3 separate regions of the Homo sapiens genome follow, and regions 1 and 2 are each linked to region 3. The links come from fine-mapping of genetic effects on gene expression. A gene starts in region 3. Each other region holds a variant in brackets. All regions are shown on one strand. Distances are between the middles of the regions. Region 1 overlaps ZNF805 (zinc finger protein 805). Region 2 has its middle 4.7 kb from the start of ZNF543. Region 3 holds the start of ZNF460-AS1 (ZNF460 antisense RNA 1).

Evidence for each region. PIP is the estimated chance that this variant, and not a neighbour inherited with it, causes the effect. A credible set is the group of variants that fine-mapping cannot tell apart.
Region 1: its variant is the best candidate, but not a certain one, in a credible set for the expression of ZNF460-AS1 in blood mononuclear cells (TOPMed, PIP 0.65).
Region 2: its variant is the best candidate, but not a certain one, in a credible set for the expression of ZNF460-AS1 in fibroblasts (GTEx, PIP 0.68).

Annotation. Positions count from the first base shown.
Region 1 is chr19:57,242,960-57,247,148 of GRCh38, reverse strand. ZNF805 (zinc finger protein 805) reads right to left here. Exons shown (of 4, transcript NM_001023563.4): 2 at 3,100-3,226. Among named protein-coding and RNA genes, the nearest start is that of ZNF805, 4.4 kb to the right of the region's middle. RefSeq lists an enhancer at 814-1,108. The variant C/T (reference allele first, on the strand shown) is at 2,446.
Region 2 is chr19:57,313,708-57,317,896 of GRCh38, reverse strand. It overlaps the pseudogene LOC100288211. Among named protein-coding and RNA genes, the nearest start is that of ZNF543, 4.7 kb to the left of the region's middle. RefSeq lists a silencer at 122-416. The variant T/C (reference allele first, on the strand shown) is at 1,757.
Region 3 is chr19:57,278,643-57,282,831 of GRCh38, reverse strand. ZNF460-AS1 (ZNF460 antisense RNA 1) reads left to right here and starts at 2,498. Exons shown (of 3, transcript NR_136529.1): 1 at 2,498-2,553. ZNF460 (zinc finger protein 460) reads right to left here and starts at 2,347. Exons shown (of 3, transcript NM_006635.4): 1 at 1,996-2,347. The coding sequence starts at 2,025. RefSeq lists enhancers at 866-985, 1,914-2,505, 1,889-3,088, 2,506-3,097, 2,212-3,151 and a silencer at 1,442-1,491.

The DNA of each region.
Region 1 (4,189 bases), 36 kb after region 3:
AGTCCCAGCTACTGGAGACGGTAAGGTGTGAGGATCGCAGTGAGCTATGATCTTGCACCACTGCACTCCAGTCTGGGAGACAAGAGTGAAACTCCATCTCAAAAAAAAAAAAAAAAGTTCACAAGAGAAGAATTTTTTCTACACAAAAACATTCAGTGATAGCTTCATAAAATGAAGGTGTTTCATCTGTGCTGAGTAAGTTAAACTGGATGAGGGACTCACAGGAGTGGCTAAATTTTCCTTACTTTGCTGAGGACAGGGATCCTGTGAGAATAAATGGAGCATGAACACTGCCTGGAACAGGCCTGAGACACCCAATCAGTGCTCTGGGGATCTGGACTGTTAACTGCTTTTCTTTTTTTTTTTTTTTTTTTGAGACGAAGTCTCGCTCTGTCATCAGGCTGGAGTGCAGTAGCGCGATCTCAGCTCACTGCAACCTCCAACTCCCTGGTTCAAGTGATTCTCCTGCCTCCACCTCCTGAGTAGCTGGGATTACAGGCATGCGCTACCACACCCAGCTAATTTTTGTATATTTAGTACAGACGGGGTTTCACCATGTTGGCCAGGATGGTCGCTATCAACTGACCTCGTGATCTGCCTGCCTTGCCCTCCCAAAGTGCTGAGATTGCAGGCATGAGCCACCATGCCCGGGCTGCTTTTCTTAAAAGTGATCCACTTTTTATTTTTCTTAGATTTCTTCAAAAATGGAATCCTTATCACTCTGGTAAATGGAAAATCCAGAGTCACTTGTCTTGATGGCAGGTAACCATGAAAATGTAGCAATAAATCAAAACAACGTATACAAAAATTAGCTGGGCGTGGTGGCACCTGCCTGTAATCCTAGCTACTCAGGAGGCTGAGGCATGAGAAATGCTTGAATCCAGGAGGCACAGGTTGCAGTGAGCCAAGATCAAACCACTGCACTCCAGCCGAGGCAACAGCGAGACTCTGTCTCAAGACAAACAAACAGTGCTCTTTGGTCCCTGTGAGCTCATGCTGCTTGTTCAGGGCTGTGAGCCTAAGGCTGCTCCCTCTGTAGAAAAGGGGAAATTACCAACAGTTTGCAGGACGTTAAGTCTCAGCACTAAACCAGAGTTTTCCTCAAATGCTAAGGAGACAAGACGAGAAGAAATAAAAGAACAACTTCCTCAAGTGTCTCTCAGCACCAGCTGATGTAGTGTCTGTCCAAGCACTCTCTGAAAAAGAGCTTCTCGCCTTAGCACAATTGACATTTAGGTCCAGGTAATTCTTTGTTTGTGAGATCGGGGGAAGAGGAGGAGAAAGGATCTGTCCTGTGCATTATAAGGATGTTTAGCAGCATCTCCACCCACTAGCTGTCAATGTTATCATCTTAGGTTTTTTTTTTTTTTGAGATGGAGTCTCGCTCTGTCGCCCAGGCTGGAGTGCAGTGGTGCAATCTCAGCTCACTGCAAGCTCCGCCTCCTGGGTTCACGCCATTCTCCTGCCTCAGCCTCCCGAGTAGCTGGGACTACAGGCACCCGCCACCACGCCCGGCTAATTTTTTGTATTTTTAGTAGAGACAGGGTTGCACCGTGTTAGCCAGGATGGTCTCTATCTCCTGACCTTGTGATCCGCCCATCTCGGCCTCCCAAAGTGCTGGGATTACAGGCATGAGCTATCGCACCTGGCCCATCATCTTAGTTTTAACAACCAAAATGTCTCCACACATTGCCCAGTGTCCACTGAAGCTCAACATCGTCCCTGTTTGAGAAACACTAGCTTAGAAAGACATTAAAAAGGTAAAGGGAGGAGGCTATGGTGAGAAAGGGGCCTCCCCAAGATTCGGTGGTCAGGGAAGGGCTGGGTGAGGAGGCAAGTGGTGCTGAGAAGGGGCGGCCATGTGAAATGCTGAATTACCCTGAGAACACTCATCAAAGAGAACAGCAAATGCAATGGCCTGAGGTGGGTGGGCACTTGGGGAAATAGCAAGAAGCCCAGCAAGGCTGCAGCAGAGTGACTTTAGAATCAGAGGATGTGAAGGTGATTGAAGGACGTGAAGGTTGTTTAGAATAACACCTGGTGGGACGGAAGGTCAATGTCTCCTTGGGGCCTGCCTGACTCAACCCTTCTTAGTGAACATCCCACCAACCCTTACACCACAGACTGGGCTGTGGAGCAGATACATGAGCAACCAGGCCCACCCAGGCAGATCCCGCTCTGGAACTCAAAAAAAAAACTGCAGACAGAGGCCAGTCTATGCTGGGCAGTGGGTGAGAGATGGAGGCAAGTATGAGCTGGAGGTGGAGCAGCATTTGCTGCCTCAAACACGCCCCACAGAGGCCAGAGAAACAGACAAGAAATCTGGAGGGGAAGGAGGGGTCACAAACAGTAAAACCTGGGGTGGTTACTCTTCCCCTGAACTCGCTGAGGCAGAAAAAACCATACAGAGTAGACAGTGACATGAGCAGACCCAGACAGAGAAAC[C/T]AGGACCCCATCGTGGCGGTTCTCAGTTCCTACTTCAACCCCTCATAACATACAGCTGGCAATCCTACCTTTGAGGTCTGCAAAACACCCCATTTCCTTCCACCAGCTTCTCTCCTTTGGCTGAGAGCCAAAGAGTACTCTTATTTCTTGTCCAAAGCGATGCATGGAGACTGTATAGGAAGAGGTGAGTGTAGGCCAGGCGTGGTGGCTCACACCTGTAATCCCAGCACTTTGGGAGACCGAGGCGGGCGGATCACCTGAGGTCAGGAGTTTGAGACCAGCCTGGCCAGCATGGTGAAACCCCATCTCTACTGAAAATACAAAAATTAGCCAGGCATGGTGGTGGGCACCTGTAATCCCAGCTTCCCAGCTACTTGGGAGGCTGAGGCAGAAGAATCGCTTGAACCTGGGAGGCGGAGGTTGCAGTGACCCGAGTTCGTGCTAATGCATCCAGCCTGGGTGACAGAGTAAGACTCCCTCTCAAAAAAAAAAAAAAAAAAAAAAGGAAGAGGTGAGTGTTGTAGAAAATGACTGAATTTGTGGGAAGGAGGCAAGGCCAGTAAGAGAGGACTTCTTGACCCATCAGGCCTGGAGTCAGAGGGTGGAACGAAGGAGGTGGCAGATCCCCTGCATGGTGGAGGGGGAAGGCCTTACCCAGAGATACCAGGAGCCCACAGTTTTCCAGCATCACCTCCTGGTACAGGGTCCGCTGAGCTAGGTCCAGCTGGCCCCACTCCTCCTGGGTGAAAGTCACAGCCACATCATCAAAGGTCACAGACACCTGAAATGTCAAATAGAGGTAGTAGAGTTTGCTGTGGGACTATTGCATGTGCTTTGCTGGAAAAGGTGCAACAAGATCAAGGCCCAAGTCACTGAGGGCCTCCTGAGGGCCTAACTTTGTACCAGGCTGAAGGAGGAAGGCAGACATTGCTTTGGACAGATTACTGTAATGTAAAAGAGAAAAGCCTCCTATATAGGAGCCATCAAAGAATAACAGAAGACAATGGCAATAACTCGTGGATGGCGAGATGTAGACAATTAGAGTTCGAGGACCTCAAAGAAATGAGGAAATAGTGACAATAATAATAGCAATAATGTTGACAACCACAGTGCCTGAGCCTCACTGGTCCAGCTCATGCTGAAGCTTCATGTTCTGTTTTAAAGCAACTACAAGTCCCAAACTCTGAAGTCAGACTTCTCAAGTTTGAATCCAAACTCCTGAAACTGACACTTGCCAGTTTTGTGACCTCAGGGACCTCATTTATCTCTGCCTCAATTTTCAGATGAATACAGAATTCCCATTTTCCCAATAACAGACATGAGTTATTCAGAGCTTACTGGACTTTGGGATTTTATTAATCCTCCCACAGCCCCTGAAGTATTACTAAACACCACCGCCAATCACCTCCATGTCACAGTCACTGACCTGAGGCTAAGGGAGCTCCACAGATTCTCCTAGTCTTTTGTGTTTTCTGTTTGTTTGTTTCAGAGACAGGGTCTCACTCTATTACCCAGACTGGAGTGTAATGGCATGCTCAGAGTTCACTGTAACCTTGAACTCCTGGGCTCAAGCAATCCTTCTGCCTTAGCCGCCCAAGTAGCTGGGACTACAGGAACGCACCACTGCGCCCAACTATTTCTTTTTGGTAGAGCTGGGATCTTGCTATGTTGCCCAGGCTGGTCTCGAACTCCTAGCCTCAAGTGATCCTCTCACCTCAGCCTCCCACAGCACTGGGGCTACAGG
Region 2 (4,189 bases), 35 kb before region 3:
ATTTCATAATGTAACTGGAAGCGCTAACAACAGAATAGACCAAGCTTAGAAAATAGTCTCAGAGCTCAGTTTTTCCCCATGTGTCTGCCGCCTAGGGGAGGTGCCTCATCCGGAGCGGGCCGCCAGCTGTCCGGCCCTGTCCGCACAGAGGCTCCTGTCGTTGGCGCCCGGGAGTGGCTTGGCTGCCCGATGCTTCTGCCCCGGCTGCCACGGGCAGGGCTGTACGCTTAGTGCCCGGCTCAGGCCCCTTGAAGCGCCCGCGGGGGTGGGAGCGGCCTCCGGCCCCGCGGAGACCGAGCGGCTTGAGGACTAGGCGGCGGCCGCGGGGAGGAGGATGGGGGCTAACCAGTTAGTGGTGCTCAACGTGTGTGACATGTATTGGATGAAGGAATATACCTCATCCATTGGAATTGGAGTTTTTCATTCAGAAATTGAAGTCTATGGCAGAGAATTTGCTTATGGTGGCCATCCTTACCCCTTTTCTGGAATATTTGAAATTTCCCCAGGAAATGCTTCTGAACTAGGAGAACCATTTAAATTTAAAGAAGTTGTTTTAGGGAGCACGGACTTCCTAGAAGATGATATAGAAAAAATTGTAGAAGAACTGGGAAAAGAATACAAAGGCAATGTTTATCATTTAATGCATAAAAACTGCAATCATTTTTCTTCAGCTTTATCAGAGGTAAACTAAATTTTATCCTAAAAGTTCTTCAAATAAGTGTTTGCTATCCCACAAAAAAAAAGAAAATAATCTCAGAGCTCAAACACGACTCCTTTGAACCAATACAGCAGAAAAAAATAAAGAAAAAAGAATTTTAAAAAATGAATAAAACCTACAAGAAATATGGGATATGTAAAAAGACCAAGCCTATAACACATTGGCATTCCAGAAAGAGATGGAGAGACAACAAGGAACTTGGAAAACATATTTGATGATACTGTCCATGAACATTTCCCCAACCACACTAGAGAGGTTGACATGCAAATTCAGGACATTCAGAGAACCCCTGTGAGATGATATTATACAAGATGACCATCCCTAAGACACATAGTCATCAGATTCTCCAAGGTCAATACAAAAGAAAAACATTAAAGGCAGCTAGAGAGAAGTGGCAGGTTACCCACAAAAGGAACCCGATCAGGCTAACCGTGGACCTTTCAGAAAGTTTACAAGCTGGAAGAGACTGGGGGCCTATATTCAGCATTTTTAAATGAAAGAAATTTGAACCAAGAATTTAATATCCAACCAAACTAAACTTCATTAAGTGAAGGATAAATAAAATCTTTTTCAGACAAACAAATGTTAAGGGAATTCATTACTACCAGACCTGCCTTACAAGAAGTCCTTAAAACAGTGCTAAACCTAGAAGCAAAAGATGAGTATCTGCCACCACAGAAACAACTTGAGCACATATCCTGTTGATACTACAAACCAACTATACAATAAAGTCCACATAACAACCAGCTAACAACATAATGACAGGATCAAATCCTCACTTATCAATATTGACCTTGAATGTAAATAGGCTAAATGCCCCACTTAGAAGGCACAAGGTGGCAAGTTGGAAAAAGAAATGAAACCCAACTGTGTATTCTCTTCATTAGACACATCTCACATGCAATGACACCCATAGGCACAAAGTAAAAGGATGGAGAAAGATCAAGCAAATGGGAAAAAAAAGAGCAGGGATTGCTATTTCACACGAAACAGACTTTAGACCAACAATGATCAAAAAAGGCAAAGAAGGGCATCACA[T/C]AGTGATAAAGGATTCAATTCAACAAGACTTAACTATCCCAAATATATATGCACCAAACACTGGAGCACCCATATTCATGAAACAAGTTCTTAGAGACCTACAACAAGACTTAGACAACCAGACAATAATAGCAGGAGACTTCAACACCCCACTGACAGTGTTAGATGCATCACCAAGGCAGAAAGCTAACAAAGGTATTTGGAAGCTAAACTGGACATTTGACCAAATAGACCTTACAGAAATCTACAGAATACTCTACCCAACAACCACAGAACATACATTCTTTTCATCTGCACATGTCACATATTCTAAGATCAATCACATACTTGGCCATAAAGCAATACTCAACAATTAAAAAAAAAGTCATACCAACCACACTCTCAGACCATAGCACAGTAGAAACAGAAATCAATACCTAGAAGAACTCTCAAAACCATACAATTACATGGAAATTAAACAATCTTCTCCTGAATGTGTTTTAGGTAAAGAATGAAATCAAGACAAATAAAAAAATTCCTTGAAACTAATTAAAACAGAGATACAACATACCAGAATCTTTGGGACACAGCTAAAGCAGTGTTGAAAGTTTATAGTGCAAAATGCCTACACCAAGAAGTTAGATAAATCTCAAGTTAACAAAATAACATCACACCTAGAGGAACTAAAAGAAAAAAAAAACAACCCCAAAAGAAAGAAAAGCAGCAGAGAAAAATAACCAATATCAGAGTTGAACTGAATAAAACTGAGATGTGAAAATCTACACAAAGATCATAAAACCGTAAGTTGGTTTTTCAAAAGAATAAACAACACTGGTAGCCCACTAGCTAGATTAATAAGGAAAAAAGAAGATGCAAAAAAACGCAATCAGAAATGTTAAAGGTGACATTACCACCTACCCCACAGAAGTACAAAATTCTCTCAGAGACTATTAAGAACTAAAAACTTAGCACACAAACTAAAAAACCTAGAAGAAATGGATACATTCCTTGAAACATACAACCTCCTAAGATTGAACCAGGAAGAAATTGAAATCCTGAACAGACCAGTAATGAGTTCTGAAATTGAATCAGTAATTAAAAAGCTACCAACCAGAAAAAGCCCTGGACCAGGTGGATTCACAGTTGTATTCTACCAGATGTAAAAAGACGTGGTACTAATCCTACTGAAATTATTCCCAAAAAATCAAGGAGGCGGGACTACTCCCTAACTTATTCTGTGAGGCCAGAGTCATCCTGATACCAAAACCTGGCAGAGGCAAAATGAAAAAAGAAAATGTTAGGCCAATATCCCTGATAAACATAAATGCAAAATTCTCAACAAAATACTAGTTAACTGAATCCAACAGCATATCAGAAAGCTAATCCACCACGATCACCACACTCAAGCAGGCTTTATATCTGGCATGCAAAGTTGGCTCAACATATGCAAATTAAGAAATGTGATTCATCACATAAACAGAACAAAAAAACAAAAACCACATGGTTATCTCAATAGATGCACAGAAGGCTTTCAATAAAATTTAACAACCCTTCCAACCCTCCACAAACTAGGCATTGAAGAAACAGACCTCAAAATAATAAGAGCCATCTATGGGCCAGGTGCAGTGTCTCACACCTATAATCCCAGCACTTTGGGAGGTGGAGACAAGCCTGGGCAACATAGCAAAACCCCGTTCCTACAAAATACACAAAAATTAGCCAGGTGTGATGGCATACACCTGTAGTCTCAGCTGCTCGAGAGGCTGAGGTGGGAGGCACTTGAGCTCAGGAGGGCAGAGGTTGCAGTGAGCTGTGATTGCATCACTGCACTCCAGCCTGGGTGACAGAGCAAGAACCTTGTCTCAAAGCAACAACAAAAGCCATCTATAACAAACTCACAGCTAAAATTATACCAGACAGGCAAAAGCCGGAAGCATTTTCCTTGGGAATCAGAACAAGACAACGATACTCACTCTTACCACTCCTATTCAAGATAGTACTGGAAGTCCTAGCCAGAGTAATCAGGCAAGAGAATGAAATAAAAGGCATCCAAATAGGAAGAGAGGAAGTCAAACTATCTCTCTTTGCAGAGGATATGATTCTATACTTAGAAAACCCCATAGTCTCTGCACAAAAGCTCCTAGAACTGATAACTTCAGTAAAGCTTTAGTATATAAAATCAATGTACAAAAATCAGCATTTCTATGTACCAATAATATACAGTGAATGTCCAGTCTGAGAGCCAAATCAAGAATGCAATCTCATACACAATAGTCAAGAAAAAGAATAAAATACCTAGTAATAAAGCTAGCCAGGGAGTGGAAAGATCTCTACAACAAGAATTACAAAACACTGCTGAAAGAAATCAGAGATGACCAAAACAAATGGAAAAACATTTCATGCTCATGGATAAAAAGAATCAATATTGTTAAAATAGCCATACTGCCCAAAGCA
Region 3 (4,189 bases):
TTTTTGTAGAGACAGGGTTTTCCCATGTTGCCCAGGCTGGTCTTGAACTCCTGGGCTCAAGCAGTCCACCTACCTCAGCCTCCCAAAGTGCAGGGTTTACAGGTGTGAGCCACCAAGCCCAGCCCAAAGTCACAGGTCTTATCAACAGAGGCAGGATTTAAGCCCAGGGCCCTCTGGTCTGATTATGTAACCTGACATTTCTCTATTAGCAAAGTTAATGCAGTTAATGAGAATGAAGCATTTCAAATCCACATATACATTTCAGCCACTCCCATGGACAAGGGCAGAGAAGTGTAGTCATCATCATCCACCTCACCAAAGAATCACCTGACGTGGTGACACCTGATCAGGTGTTAGGGCCTGGACCTGCTTCCAGGGAGAATTCACAATGAGCCATCGCTTCCTTTTCTACCTAAGTCCTACTAGCAGGCATCCCTGAGGCCAGAAGATTCCATGAGCAAGCAACAAGAGTCATAGAGGGCACAGCAGGTTGTAGCCAAGACAATATGGGCCCATCTGGAGATTACATCTATCCTGGCTGAGTAGGAGGGTACATTCAGCAACATAACCATACAAACGTGCCCTCTCAGAATATGTCAGCAGGTAAGGGAGTAAGGGGAACCACATATAAAACCACCGTGGAAGCCACACAGGTCCCCTGAGAACTCCTTAAACAACCAATATACCATTTTTTAAGTCTACACAGTTCCACCAGTATGAAAGGCCATGACTCCTCATGCCCAAGATCACTGGCTAGAAGGAGGCCTCATCTTGCAAAGGTTACTTTAGGTCTCACCCCCAGGCCTCCCTAACCACTGCGGGTAAAGAAGAGGGTAAAAACACAGGCTATGATGTTAGACACACCAGTTGTTAGTTTCTGACTTAAGAAACTTAAGAGCTACAGTGATGTAAGGCAGGTAATTGGACGTATGTGACCCTCAAATTGCTCTTGTGTAAAACAATGATGACAACAGAACCTAATTCTAAAGAGTAATCCCAGCACTTTGGGAGACCCAGATGGGTGGATCACCTGAGGTCAGGAGTTCAAGACCAGCGTGGCCAACACGGTAAAACCCCGTCTCTACTAAAAATACAAAAATTAGCCAGGCGTGGTGGCGCACACCTGTAGTCCCAGCTACTCAGGAGGCTGAGGCAGGAGAATCGCTTGAACCCAAAAGGCGGAGGTTGCAGTGAGCCGAGGTCACGCCACTGCACTCCAGCCTGGGCGACAGAACAAGACTCCGTCTCAAAAAAAAAAAAAAAAAAAAAAAAAAATTTCAGGGTTAAACGAACTGAGGGTTAAATAATACTCACCGATCAGCCCACAGCAAGGACTCAATGACAGTTAATATCATTCTTTGCAATTATTTTTCTTTGTTCCCATTACATCCTTGACAAACTCAAATCCACAAGCTTCTTTAATACCATCAGATTATCTACACAAAAATACCAGACTCTGGGCAAGGGTGTAAGGTGCCACTTTAGCCGGAATTGCCAAAAAAGGCACCTCCAAATAGGTGACACCTGGACAGATGCCAAAAGGATGTGAAAGGGAGGCCCTGCAAAGTTACAGGGGCAGTGTTCGAAGTAAAAGGAAGTGCAAGGAGAAAGCCTGGAAAATGGAAGAGGACTGCACGGTCAGGTTGGTGGCTCTGAAGAGCAAAGGACCAGGGAAAAATGCAAACAGACAAGGTCAGGGGTGGTTGGCCAGGTGGATGGGGTACGGGCTGGCAGGCAACAGAGAAGGTTGGATTTAGGGGAAGTGTGATGAGATCCCTAGAAGGAAGCATCACTCCTTCAACCACGGACTGAACACCTATCAGAGGCCAACACTGTTGCAGGACTGCGGATAAAGGAAATGACAAGCCACGGCCATTTCTCTTAAATAAACGATGGCGACAAAGAAAAATCCTGTGGCTGTCTTGGCTTCCAGCCTGCCCACGAGGCCTCTAGAAATAGCACAGCAGCAGCAAGGCCGAAACCTCGTCCACTCACCTGCGCCGGAGCCATCCACGCCGCCGCCATCCCGGGAATGCCGCGGATCAGCCGACCACAGCCCTTCTCTGTCCTGGGCGGGGCGACCTCGGCTGACTTTCGCACTCCGAGCCTCAGTTTTCCCCCGAAAAAAATGCGCACAAGGCCCAAGGCGCAGCGTCGGGGCTGAGGAGACGGAGGGCGGCTGCGGAGGCCTAGGCCTCGGCGGGCGCCGGTGGGACACCTCGTTAGGGGAGAAGCGGGGCGTCAGGCTCCCGCCAAGACGCGAAGAAGGGGCGTAACCGCTTCACTACCCGTCCCTGCTCAGGCCGCAGAACGCGCCCACCCAGCGCTCTAGGCCCCACACTGTTTCAGGGCCAAACCGGCCCACGGAGATGACGTCACACGAAGAAGCGGAAGTCCCGCCTCCGCCGCCCTGGCCCGCAGAAAACTCTCCTGTCCTGGGTCGTCAATGGCCCAGAGTCCGCGGCCGACGCAAGGGGCAGTGCCTTCTGGGTAATGCAGTTTTTCCCTTACATCTACCGGGTGTGGGAACTCACCCAGCGCATCCGACTGCACGTAAGTGCGCACCAGAACCCCCGCGTCGTCTTAGGGCCACCGCCTTAGTATAGGCACAAGTCGGAGGGTCGAAAGGTCCCTTCTAGCTCAGGAAAATCGAGGTCAGGAGGCGGGGATATTCGCCCCGATTCAGACCCCGAACAAAGGTGCTTACCCTGCTGTGGGCTGGGCCCGCGACTTCTCGCTTGCTTTGCCTCTTTTCTGGATCTTTTCATAGAAGAAAAGGATAAATGAGCAGTTAAAATAGCCACCCAAAGGAGGACGCCTGACAGTGTGCCCAGCCTGCTGGGAAAGGACAGACCGCCCTCTATTGGGCCTCCTTTGGCCGGGCCCAGCCTTCGTAGGATGCAGGGACTTCCGGGTGATGTAATAGGCTTCGCGTTCGCCACGTGTGGACTTCCCGTACCCTGAGGTGGGGAGGCTGCTAGTGGAGCAGGCTTGCCGGGAAGCCCAGTACTCCCATTTCAAGCATGATCAGTTTGAAACGTCAGTAAGACCACAAAGCGTAGTGCCATATACTCAACCTATGATTCAACATTGGCAGAGGGTTCGAGCGTGGATATATAAATTTGGGAGTTATTACTGTAAACTGTTACTTCAAGTCATGATATTGGGTGAGGCTATGAAAAGAATGAGCGTAGATGGATAAGTGACGGGAAAGAGGGGAACCCTGGCCCAACCCAGCATTAACTGGTTGCAGACAGGAGAGTTTATAAAGTCTTGTTAGGAATTTTAACAATCCTAGACTATGCAAAGATTATATTATGCGAAGTCTTAGGAGTCCCCATCAGTAACTTTTTTTTTTTCTTTTCATGACTATGAAAGTGAGAGAATAAAGTCCAGCTTTCAATGGTTTGACGATATATATGGTTAAGGAAATAGAAAGGTGTGCAGAAAGTACTCTCCAAGAGATTTAATTTTGAGATTGAAAATAGTCAAGGAATGGAGATGGAGTCAATTTCCTACACGATGCGGTACTTTTGGAGAAATATTTTTGGCTAAATTAGTGTGCAAGGAACACTGTTATTCATCACTGGCAATAGTAATTTTTGAAAATTGATAAAGACATCATTCTCTTTTTCACATATTTGTGACTCTTAAATTTTTTTTTTTTTTTTTTTTTTTTGAGATGGAGTTTCACTCTTGTTGCCCAGGCTGGAGAGCAGTGGCACAGTCTCCACTCACTGCAACCTCCGCCTCCCGGGTTCAAGCGATTCTCCTGCCTCAGCCTCCTGAGTAGCTGGGATTACAGGTGTGCGCCACCACGCCTGGCTAATTTTATATTTTTAGTAGAGACAGGGTTCTTCCATGTTGTTCAGGCTGGTCTCAAACTCCCGACCTCAGGTGATCCACCCACCTCGGCCTCCCAAAGTGCTAGGATTACAGACGTGAGCCACCCCCTCTGGCCAGACTCTTATAATTAAATTTAAATGGTTTTTTCAGAGGCATATGAACCAGAGCAACTCTATCTTAAATAGGAGCTGGGTAAAATGAAGCTAAAACCTACTAGGCTGCATTCCCAGACAGTTAAGGCATTCTGAGTCACAGGATGAGATAGGAGGTCAGCACAAAATACGGATCATAAAGACCTTGCTGATAAAACAGGTTGCAGTAAAGGAGCTGGCCAAAACCACCA